3 linked regions of the Homo sapiens genome follow. The protein of the gene in region 3 interacts with the protein of the main gene of each other region in a pairwise test. Each region holds a gene or a part of one and is shown on either strand. Other genes may lie near its edges.

Evidence for each region.
Region 1: the proteins of KDM3A (region 3) and BTG3 interact in a two-hybrid assay, tested with the Homo sapiens proteins (one large-scale study listed by BioGRID and IntAct).
Region 2: the proteins of KDM3A (region 3) and RIPK2 interact in a two-hybrid assay, tested with the Homo sapiens proteins (one large-scale study listed by BioGRID and IntAct).

The regions. Positions count from the first base shown.
Region 1 is NC_000021.9:17,595,759-17,599,417, reverse strand, and holds part of BTG3 (protein BTG3), read left to right. Parts: intron 1-593; coding exon 594-801; intron 802-3,659. UniProt on the Homo sapiens protein: Overexpression impairs serum-induced cell cycle progression from the G0/G1 to S phase.
Region 2 is NC_000008.11:89,781,685-89,785,343, forward strand, and holds part of RIPK2 (receptor-interacting serine/threonine-protein kinase 2), read left to right. Parts: intron 1-2,365; coding exon 2,366-2,455; intron 2,456-3,659.
Region 3 is NC_000002.12:86,468,735-86,472,393, forward strand, and holds part of KDM3A (lysine-specific demethylase 3A), read left to right. Parts: intron 1-1,469; coding exon 1,470-1,674; intron 1,675-3,659. UniProt on the Homo sapiens protein: Histone demethylase that specifically demethylates 'Lys-9' of histone H3, thereby playing a central role in histone code.

The sequences.
Region 1 (3,659 bases), on a different chromosome or scaffold from region 3:
TCTTGAGCCTAGGAGTTTGGGACCAGCCTCAGCAACATGGTGAAACCCTGTCTCTAAAAATGTATATAAATTAGCTGAGCATGGTGGTACACTCCTGTAGTCCCAGCCTCTTGGGAGGTTTGAAGTTGGAGGATCGATCACCTGAGCCCAGGAGGTAGAGTCTGCAGTGAGTTGTGATTGTGCCACTGCACTCCAGCCTGGGCAACAGAGTGAAACCCATCTCAAAAAAATAAAAATACATCAGAATGTTTTATTGTACAACCAATTTCATTGGTACATACAAAAATGTAATCAAAACAATGGACTTTTTTTGATGTTTTAAACAATTTTTTTTTTAGGAATTAGTAGAAAGAAAATAAGGGAAAGAAAATGGGGTTATGTTTATGAATACTTAAATAGACCAGAAGTAGAAAACTGTGGTTTGCTTGCTGGCATTGAGCTGTATTAGGATATTAAATGTGTAGGGTCAAGTTCTGTGATGATTCAATCTTTGCCTTGTATTGATGGCATGTCCAGATCTCTTTGTTTTTATGGACATTTTTTGCTTTGCTGATGTGACTTCAAGATTTGTAAGTTTTTAATTTTATTCTTAGGTATGGAGAGAAAAACAATGCATTCATTGTTGCCAGCTTTGAAAATAAAGATGAGAACAAGGATGAGATCTCCAGGAAAGTTACCAGGGCCCTTGATAAGGTTACCTCTGATTATCATTCAGGATCCTCTTCTTCAGATGAAGAAACAAGTAAGGAAATGGAAGTGAAACCCAGTTCGGTGACTGCAGCCGCAAGTCCTGTGTACCAGGTAACCATGAAAACAGCTCAGTTTTAAAGGGATGTGCAGGGATTGCCAGGACCTTTCAGGTAGTCCTACTTGGCATTGCCCAAGGTTTCTGACTTGAGATTCTGGATAATAGTTCTTGCCTTTCCCCATGCTAAGGGAAAGCTGTTTCTCTGGCACGTAAATAGGCATCCTGAGTCATTTTATCAAAGGTCAGCTTCACTATACAATAACTAGGATAAATATATTTCAGAAAAATTGGCAAAAAGTAGAAAATTCATGATGGTAAAACATTCCTGATATTTTAAAATCTCATTCAAAAGTTACCACTTATTTTTTGTAGTATGTAACACTTTGTTTTGTACCTTTGGGTTTAACTTTCTATTCTCTCCCGTTCCATGATTAAAGAGAAACCTCTCTAAATTTATTATATTATAATTAATATTTTACTCAAGCTGAAACATTGTCTCCCTTTTTGCTTTACTAGTTGAAAAGTCATATAGCTAGTGTGCCTGCACTTACAGATCCATTCACTGATTTACTATTTATATCTACATACCAAAGAACATTTAATCGACTTTAAAAAATTGTTGACCAAACAGCATTCTTCAACAGGAAAGATATTTTAAAGTCATAACAATTTAAAGAGATTTTTTGAGTTGAGCCTTATTCTGTAAATGTACTTATTACTAATTTTTAAAGGTTATCTATTTTTACTTACTTGCTTTGATTAAATGTGAAACATACCAGGTTTGTGGTAAGGTTGAGCTGAAAATGAAAATTTAGACCTAATGAGTAAGAAGCAGAATATTGGAGCTTTTAGTATGATAAACTAAACTTTTAAATTCAGCATACATTTACATAATGAACATTATTTCAGTGTAACTTAATTTTTGGTTTTCTCATTTTTTTCTCAGTTGAATTATTCTTCCTAGACTTTAGGGGAAGATTATTTCTGAAGATTATCATAATTTAGGATTCTATGTATATGTGTATGTATATGTATATGTATATAACATGTACCTGGCTTTATGAAACTTCAAACAGTACAAGACAGTATAATAGTGAGAAGTCCTCTTTCTCCCCAACCACCAGTCCCTATGCATTTCCACAGAGACATTCATTACCAGGTTTTTTTTTCTTTTTTTTAGTATCCTTCCAGAGACATTCCCTATATAAATAAGTAAACATAGTATTTGTACTTCAGGATCATTTTTAAAAACCTTGCCATAAATATTTGAGGCATTTTTTTTCTCTGTGTGATGGATTATATATTGCAAATTAGGTATATTGAATTTTCTGGAATTCATCCAAATGTGTGGCAATTTTACCTCAGAATTTTATTTGTTGTTAAGCAAGAATGTAAGTCTCAAATTAAATTGATTGCTGCTAATTTTTTACAAGCAAATTAACCTTTAATTTTTAGGATTTCTTTTAAAATTAAATTGCATTTATTTTCCCTCATGTTGAAAGACTATTAGGATAACAGAAAGGTATGGAAATTGAGGTGTCTCTTACGTGCTTTTTAAGGAAAACATTTCTCCTTGGCCTAATACTCATTAGCAAAACATTTTATAATAGAGAAACACTACTTGTGTGAAAGCTAGTGCAAATGGCCCACTTTGATTTTCTTCTTTCTAGTATCTTGAATCTGGCATTGCCACAAGCTTTAAAAAAGTTTTATCAAATAAGGACAACAAAATTTCTAGCTTGGAATTTTTGTTCTCTACTGTTTTCTAAAAGGTATCCCAAGAGAGGGGATAAAGAATTATTCATATCTTAAAAAACGAAGAAATGAAGATTGTGTCAGTTCTCCTGAAATAGATCTGTAGATCCAATTCAGTATCAATGAACATCTTAAAAGGTTTTTTTCTGGAAAGTGACAAATTGATTCAAAATTTTAAAAAAGGAGGATCAGTTGGAGGGCTCACACTAATTCAAAGCTATTATATATTCATCAAGACAGTGTGGTAATGGTTTAAAAACATACAAATATATTGATGGCACAGGATAGAGAGTCCAGAAGTAGACCCACATACATACAGTTAGTCTTTTTTCTCCCTTTTAACAAAAGTGCCAAAGCAATTCAATGGGGAAAGTCTTCAAGAACTTGTGCTGAAACAACTGGATGATCTGTGTAGGAAAAAAAACGAACCTAACTTAGCTGACACCATACACAAAAATATTGATTTGAGATGGATTGTGTACCTAGACATAAAAGATAAATCTCTGACGCTTTTAGAAGAAAACATAGGGAAATATAATCTTTATTTTGTGACAGGCAAATATTTCCTCTAGAGGGTCACAAAAAGTAACTAATAAGGGAAAAAAATTGACAAACTGGACTTCATCAAAATTAATCATCTTTTTGTTCATCAAAGAAACCATTAAGAAAATGGGCAAACCATAGACTAGGACAAAATATTCTCATTACATATATCTGTAAAGGACTTATTTCCAGAATATACTTTTTTTAAAATCGCTCACAAATCACTAGTAAAAGGTAAATGATTCAATGAAAAATAATGGGCATATCCTGCTGTAATCTCAAAAAAAGGGCAGGAGGAGCAAAAGATGTGAATAAACACTTTACAAAAGGAGTTATGTGAATGGCCTCATTTATGATCAGAGGAATGCAGATTAAATCCATATGAAACACTAGTTCTTCCAGAACTGCACAATTTAAAAGCCTGACAGCATGAAATGTTAGCAAGGATGTGAAGCAGCTAGATTCATAAACTTGCTAGTCATGTAAAATAGTACCACTACTTTGGAAAACTGGAACTTTTTAACGTTAAATGTGTAACTCTTCTATTACTCAGCAGTTCCACTCCTAAGTATTAAATATTTACCAAAAGAAACGAAAATATGCCTATAAAGCC
Region 2 (3,659 bases), on a different chromosome or scaffold from region 3:
AGATACATTCCAAGACCCTGGTCAATGCCTGAAACCATGGGTAGCACTGAACCCTATGTATACTGTACATACATACCTATCATACATACATACTTACTTTTCCCATGCATATATACCTATGATAAGGTTTAATTTATAAGATAGGCACAGTAATATATTAACAATAACCGATAATAAAGTAGAACAATTCTAACAATATTCTGGCATCACTATTCTTGCACTTTGGGCCATTAGTAGTAAGAGTTGACTTAATTAGTAATAAGAGTTATTTGAACAGCCTAGGCAATGTGGCAAAAAAACATAACAAAACAAAACAAAAAATATAGCTGGGTGTGGTGGCACATGCCTGTAGTCGTAGCTACTGAGGGCTGAGATAGGAGGATCACTTGAACCCAGGAGGTAGAGGCTATAGTGAGCTGGCACTCCAGCCAGGGTGACAGAGTGAGACCCTGTCTCAAAAAAAAAAGTTACTTGAGTACAAGCACTGTGATCCTGACAGTTGTTCTGGTACTAACAGGGTGGTAGCTTATACAGCATGGATATGCTGGACAAAGGGATGATTCACATCCTGGGTGGAATGGAGCTGTAGGTTCATCATACTACTTAGAACTGCATGTGACTTAAAACTTATGAATTGTTTATTTCTAGAATTTTACATTTAATATTTTCAAACCACAGTTGAGCAAGGGTAATGGAAACTGCGGAAAGTGAAACCAAGATAAGAGGGGGACTACCGTATAGGGAAGTTAGTCACTTATGTACATCTCACACAGTAAGCTAATGTCAGGGACAACAGTAGAACACGAATTAAATAAGATTCTTCATAAAGAAATTTCTGAGCTAGGTGTGATGGTACATGCCTATAGTCCCAGTTACTCTGAAAGCTGAAGCAGGAGGATCTCTTGAGCCCAGGAGTTCCAGTCCAACCTGGGCAACATACCAAGACCCTGTCTCTTAAGAAAAAAAAAAAAAAAATTCTGAAAGCCAAAATTAGTAGGGAAATTTGTTTTGAGTTTCCTACATTTTTTCAACTCTTGGAATCAGCTCCCGTAATTTATGTTTTCCTAGGTAATTGGCTTCTAAATCTTGAATAATAAACACTGAATAAACATAGTTTTTCTTCAGTTGTTCATTTCTTCTTAGGGACAGATTCACTAATTCACAAGTAATTTGAATTATCATAACTGATCAGTTATGAAAAACTGTTACTAATTCAAGGATATTGCATTATCAGAAATGTTTTGGCAAATTTTATAAGCAGAGGAAAACCTCACATAACAGAGATAAAACCAAAAACTCATTTTAAAGGGTCATATAACAATATGTTTATAGATGTTTATTGAACTGCTGTGTATAACGCCCTGTGCTAGGTACATTATATACACAGATGAATAAGAGTAATTTCCTTCTGAAGTTCCTTAGCCATGTAAATGGAGTATGCAGTCATAAATGTGCATAATGGATGGCTGGGTGTGAATTCACCATTTTCCAAATTCTGAAGAGTAGTTGACATTATGATGGTCTGGGGAAGAAAATGATTGATAGGTTTGTATTTAAATCACTGAGTAGTGATGGAAACTAATCCAAGCCTAGCTTATATAGACAGGAATAAACCACTTAATTTTAACACAAAAGAATAGTATTTAAGTAAATCATCTACTCAGCAGCTACCATTTATTGAATGCTTACAAGTAATGTTTGGGCCTTTTTGCATATATTACTTTTCATTTTCCTCACAGTAATCCTTCAAAATAGGAATTTTTATCTCCAGTGTACAGATAAGTAAACTGAGATTAAATCTAATGTCTCACGTCAAACAGATGTGGGTCTCTAAATCACATCTGATTGGCTCCATGGCCCTGCCATTCCATTATTGACACTCTACCTCCTTTACTTAGTCCAAGCCTCAATCTCTTAACTATAAAATGAAAATAATAATAGTACTTACAGGCACAGTGCCTAAAATGTGGTAAATACTTAACTATAGATAGACATACAATCACACTCCCAAAAATTCCCAAAAATTTATTAAGTACCTAGTTTATACCAGATATTTCATATTTATAAGCTCAATCTCTAGAACCATCCTGCATGTAGGTAATTGTTAGATTTCGAGGATGAAGCTCTGAGACACTGAGAGAAGGTAACCAATTAATATGAGCCAGGATTCAAAGTCTGTGTTTCTAAAGTTATTTCCCGTTCTACACTGTCTTTTCCTTCAGTTATATGTTATATTCTCAACTCTTTATATTTTCTTTCCATGTATTTTGTACAAACATATAAAATGTGTTAGATTGTATTTTACTTCTATAATTTCCTAATCATCTCCAGTTAAAGTGTATATATATTTATGTATTCATTACAGTTACAGAGTGTTTCAAGTGCCATTCACCTATGTGACAAGAAGAAAATGGAATTATCTCTGAACATACCTGTAAATCATGGTCCACAAGAGGTAAAAAAAAAAAAAAAAAAAAAAAGGTTATATTAAACTCAAAATGTGAGAAGAATTTGAAAAAATCATTTGGTCTAAGCCCTTCTTTTATAGAAGGAAAACTAAAGCCCAGGGAGCTTTTAGGATTTGTTTGGTAGCTCATGTCAATCTCCAACTTGAAACCCAGCTGTACTGATTCTCAGTTCATTGTTCATCCCATCAAATCACAATTATTGCTTCTTTGTTTGACATTGAGTTCTGTCCCTGTCATTGTTTTATACAATAAATGATATCCCAGGGTATTATGTAGGCAAATCATTGATTACAGTTTTAACACTGTATTTATGCTACCTTGTTCTTACCTCTTATAATAATTAATGAGAGGAAAACATTGCTGCCTAGGAAGAAAGATCTCTTTAGTAGCATTCAATCAGACTTATATTAGTCTGAATTAGTAATTTCTTTTAAGAATGTATATGTATGTTCATTTTACAGAATTAGAAAAGTAACATAGATTGAGCATCCCTAATCCAAAAATCCAAAGCCCTCCACAGTCCAAAACTTTGAACACCAACATGATGCCACAAGTGGAAAATTCCACACCTGTGTTAGTCTGTTTATCGTTGCTATAATGAAATACCTAAGAGTAGGTAATTTATAAAGAAAAGAGGTTTATTTGGCTCACAATTCTGGTAGCCAGAAAGTCCAGGATTGGGCAGCTGCATCTGATGAGGACCTTAGGCCGCTTGCACTCATGTTGGAAAGTAGAAGGGGAGCGAGCTATGCAGAGAAATCACATGGTGAGACAGGATGCAGGAGAGTGAAAATGAGGAAGTCAGGTTCTTTAACAGCTTGCTCTCTCAGGAATCCACTCACCACTTCTAGAATGGCACCAAGCTATTCATGAGGGATCTTCCCCCATGACCCAAACACCTCCCATTAAGCCCCACCTCCCAACACCACCACATTGGGGATCAAATTTCAATGTGAGATTTAGTGGGGACAAACAAACCATATCAAACCATAGCAACATCTGACCTCATATGATAGGTCGCAGTCAAAACATTGTTTCATGGGTGGACACGATGGCTCAAGTCTGTGATCCCAGAACTTTGGGAGGCCAAGGTGGGTGGATCACTTGAGGTCAGGAGTTCGAGACCAGCCTGGCCAACATGACAAAACCCCATCTCTACTAAACATATAAAAATTAGCTGGGCATGGTGGC
Region 3 (3,659 bases):
AAAAGCAAACTGGAGTCAAACAGCTGCCTTTTTTTCCGTTCAGATAGATACGTGGCTCCTCGGAAGTGGGCGTTGCATTTTTCTCTTGACTTGGCTTTGAATTCAGAGAATCACTGATGGTAGCACCTGTTGCTCTCCTCAGTAAAGAGCTAGATTTAGACAGTTCAGCTTTCTTGTTTCTAGATATTTCCTCTTGTGAGCCAGGATAGAACAGATAAGATAACCTTCTTGCCTGTGATCTGTGGAAGCCTGGCTCAACTCAAAGGATGTCTTTCAATATCTGAGTAATTAAAATTACATCCTTGAACTACTAATCTCTTTATTTTCTCTCCTTTCTTACTTTACCTTCTCTTTCACTATAACTGAGTAGGAGTGTTTAAGGGATCAAGGACTAACAGCATCATGTAGAAATTTACATGTGGTCTAGTCCTGCTTTAAAAGAGAGGTAAGATTAGATCACCTCTAAGGTAATTATTGAAGATGTTTACTTTATTTAAAACCTTCTTTGGTTTGGGATCTTCCAATTTTCTCCAAGACTCACCTCTCCCACCCATCTCTCAACTAGTTCCCCAGAAGCTGTTGGTTTTTGACTTTCGTTTGTTTGCCTAAAAACCCACTTCCCTCTTCTCAGCTCTCTGGGACCCTAAGAAAAGGTCTTTTCTGTTTTCTATGAAATACTCCTTAAGGCTCTTGACATACAAATGGATTCCTTACTTTGTTATTTTCTCTGACACGGTGATTGCTCTTTCCTGATACATGTCTACCTTGTCTTTAGAAACCATGTTAACATTTCAAATTCTCCGGCCTATTACAAGTTAAAACATAAAATCTGCATTTACTTAGAATGATAATCCTGTCTGTAGCCAGTGCTCTTAATCCTGCTTGGACCACATGTGTGAAAGAAGGGGAGACATGTCAGGAGTCAAGTGACAGGCATTTAGAAGATGCTCTAACTCCATAGACCCAGGGGCTACGTAGGAAAGTGATTCGTTTATTGTTATTTTTAGAATGGTTAGCTTTTGCATTGTACTTTTAAAAACACACCTTAAACCAGTCTTTTTTGAATTTGGAAAGTGACAGAATGGACATCTACTAAGTCAGGCCTCTGCAGAAGTGAGCCTCGAGATCGAGTTTGAATTAAATGTCTGATTTGAAAACATCCTAAAATGTAGAGTTGTGAATAGAAGTATACATTAACTTTGAATTGTGAGTCTGGCTGTTTAATTTGGGGTTTTATGTTGCCAAATGGATTGAGCAAATAAGAATTGTTTTATAAAGAGAGTAAAACTTTCCCAGTTATTCTGATAGTTGTCTTCTGTTGAGCCATTTTTAGAAATTACAATTGAACCAGGAATTGAGAAGGGAGTTCTCTTTAAGGGAATATTGGGTTTTTGAATAGAATTCAGTCATATATGAATGTGATTTTTAAAAATTTGAGGTCCTGTCTCCTTAATCTTTTGTTTTCCTAGCCCCATCCAGGAAGTCGGTTTTGACAGACCCAGCTAAACTCAAAAAGCTGCAACAGAGTGGCGAGGCCTTCGTACAGGATGATTCTTGTGTGAACATCGTGGCACAGTTGCCTAAATGCCGAGAGTGTCGCTTGGACAGTCTCCGCAAGGATAAGGAGCAACAGAAGGACTCACCTGTGTTTTGCCGCTTCTTTCACTTCAGGAGGTGAGGCATTTTGGGAAAAGTTCAGATAATCTGGGCATACTTGTTATGCTAGATCATCTGGCATACTTTTGTTACTCTTTTATCAACAGTAAATCTAGAAGTAAAAAGGTGGTAGATGTTGCATTTATAATCTCTAGGTTGGAGAATCTAGATCTTATTGCATGTTACTTTTCATTCTTATTTTTGATTTTTTTTAAAGTAACAAAGCTTAAAAATATAAACTTCTATTTCAAAAAGTAACAGTCATTATAGAAAAATGTCGAAGGTTCTGAAAAACCACTACAAATAACTACTGTTAACTTTTCAGTGCACTGTATGATCATAAAATGTATACCTAGTTGGTATACCTAGTTGGTATATTGCACACCCTGTTTTGAATCTTACTTTCCCATTACATAGTAGGAACCTCTTGATCATAACCTTTTTCTTTAAATACTTTTGAATTTCTGTGTAAGAGCACATTATAGTAATGTTTGATAATTTATTTCACCAATTCCCTTGTTGGTATTAAGATTATTTTGTATTTTTTGTGACTGGAAGTAATGCAGAAATGATCTTCTTGTCCATGTCCCTGATTATTTGCTTTGGGAGGATTACTAGAAGTGGCATTTCTGGGTCAGAAGGTGTGTGTGTTTTAAGGCTTTGATACACCTGTTCTGCCAAGTTATCCTACAGGAAGGTCGCACCTGTGTCCTTGACAACTGCAGGGTTTGAGCATGCTCCCATGGTCTCTGTACCATTGCCAGCAGGGAGAGGCATACCTTTTTAAAAAATCTTTTCCAATTTTATAGGCAAAATTTTCATATATATATATGTGTGTGTGTGTATGTATATGTGAATATATGTGTGTATATATATGTGTATATATGTGTGTATATATGTATATATGTGTGTATGTGTATATATGTGTATATGTGTATGTGTGTATATATGTATATATGTGTGTGTGTATATGTGTATATATGTATATATATGTGTGTATATATATATATTTTCAAAATCATTTTCTTTAAATTCTTCTATCCTGAGTGAAGAAAAAAGCAGCCCTATCTTTTTTGTTCATATAGAAATGAACAGTGTTGGTATAGTTGAACTTGAGATATAATTCACTTTCTCAGAAATCTAGGTACTTTCAGGTTGGACTAACTCTAATCATAAACAGAAGAGTTGATTTCAATTCCTATTCTCCTCCTCCCTTTTCATTTTATCTAAGTTAAAAGATTGCTGATGAGCTGAATTAAATGCACAGGGAATTTAGATCATTATATCTGTGCTCGTAACTTTCAGATTCAGGCTTATTTAACGAAGTAAGAGTTTTTTAGGTACTAGTTTGCCCCATTCATCCCTTTGTAAATTGCAAAAGCACGTCATAAAGCATGTGGGTAGCATTTAGAGCTGTAATACTGTTAACGTATGTTAACATATGCATATATTAATATATTCTGAATAACGCCTGGCCCAGAATAAGCTGTTAGTAGAGGGTAACTCTGTTTCCCTTCCTCTCGAGAATTTTCTTCTTAAACAGTGTGTTACAATGCATATTCATTTGTATGTGTATGAATTTTGAAGACACTGAAATGGTTATGCTTTGTACAGGTCTTTGTGTTTCTATTCACTTGATTTCATGTTGTTATGGCTCCTCTGCTATGAAAAATATAACTAGATTGGATGAGAGAGTGGTTTAAGTTGCAAAGGCATTTTAGGGAAGGGATAATTTTTTTTTCTTTCTTTTGTTCTTTGTAATATGATTAGAGCTTTTTTTTTTAACCCACTACATTTTTGTAACAGTCTAGAAGTCATTGACTTTATGACTTAGCTGTTTTTTTCATTTTTGACTTCTTTAAAGGGGAAAGTACCTTTGCCTAATGCTGCGTAGTAGAAGCCAGTGTAGTAGAAACCAGAAGAAACTCATATCTTGGTAAAAGAATATCATAATTTAACTTTTTTCCTGATGTTTAGAGTGAAGATTGAGGCTGTCATTAGCC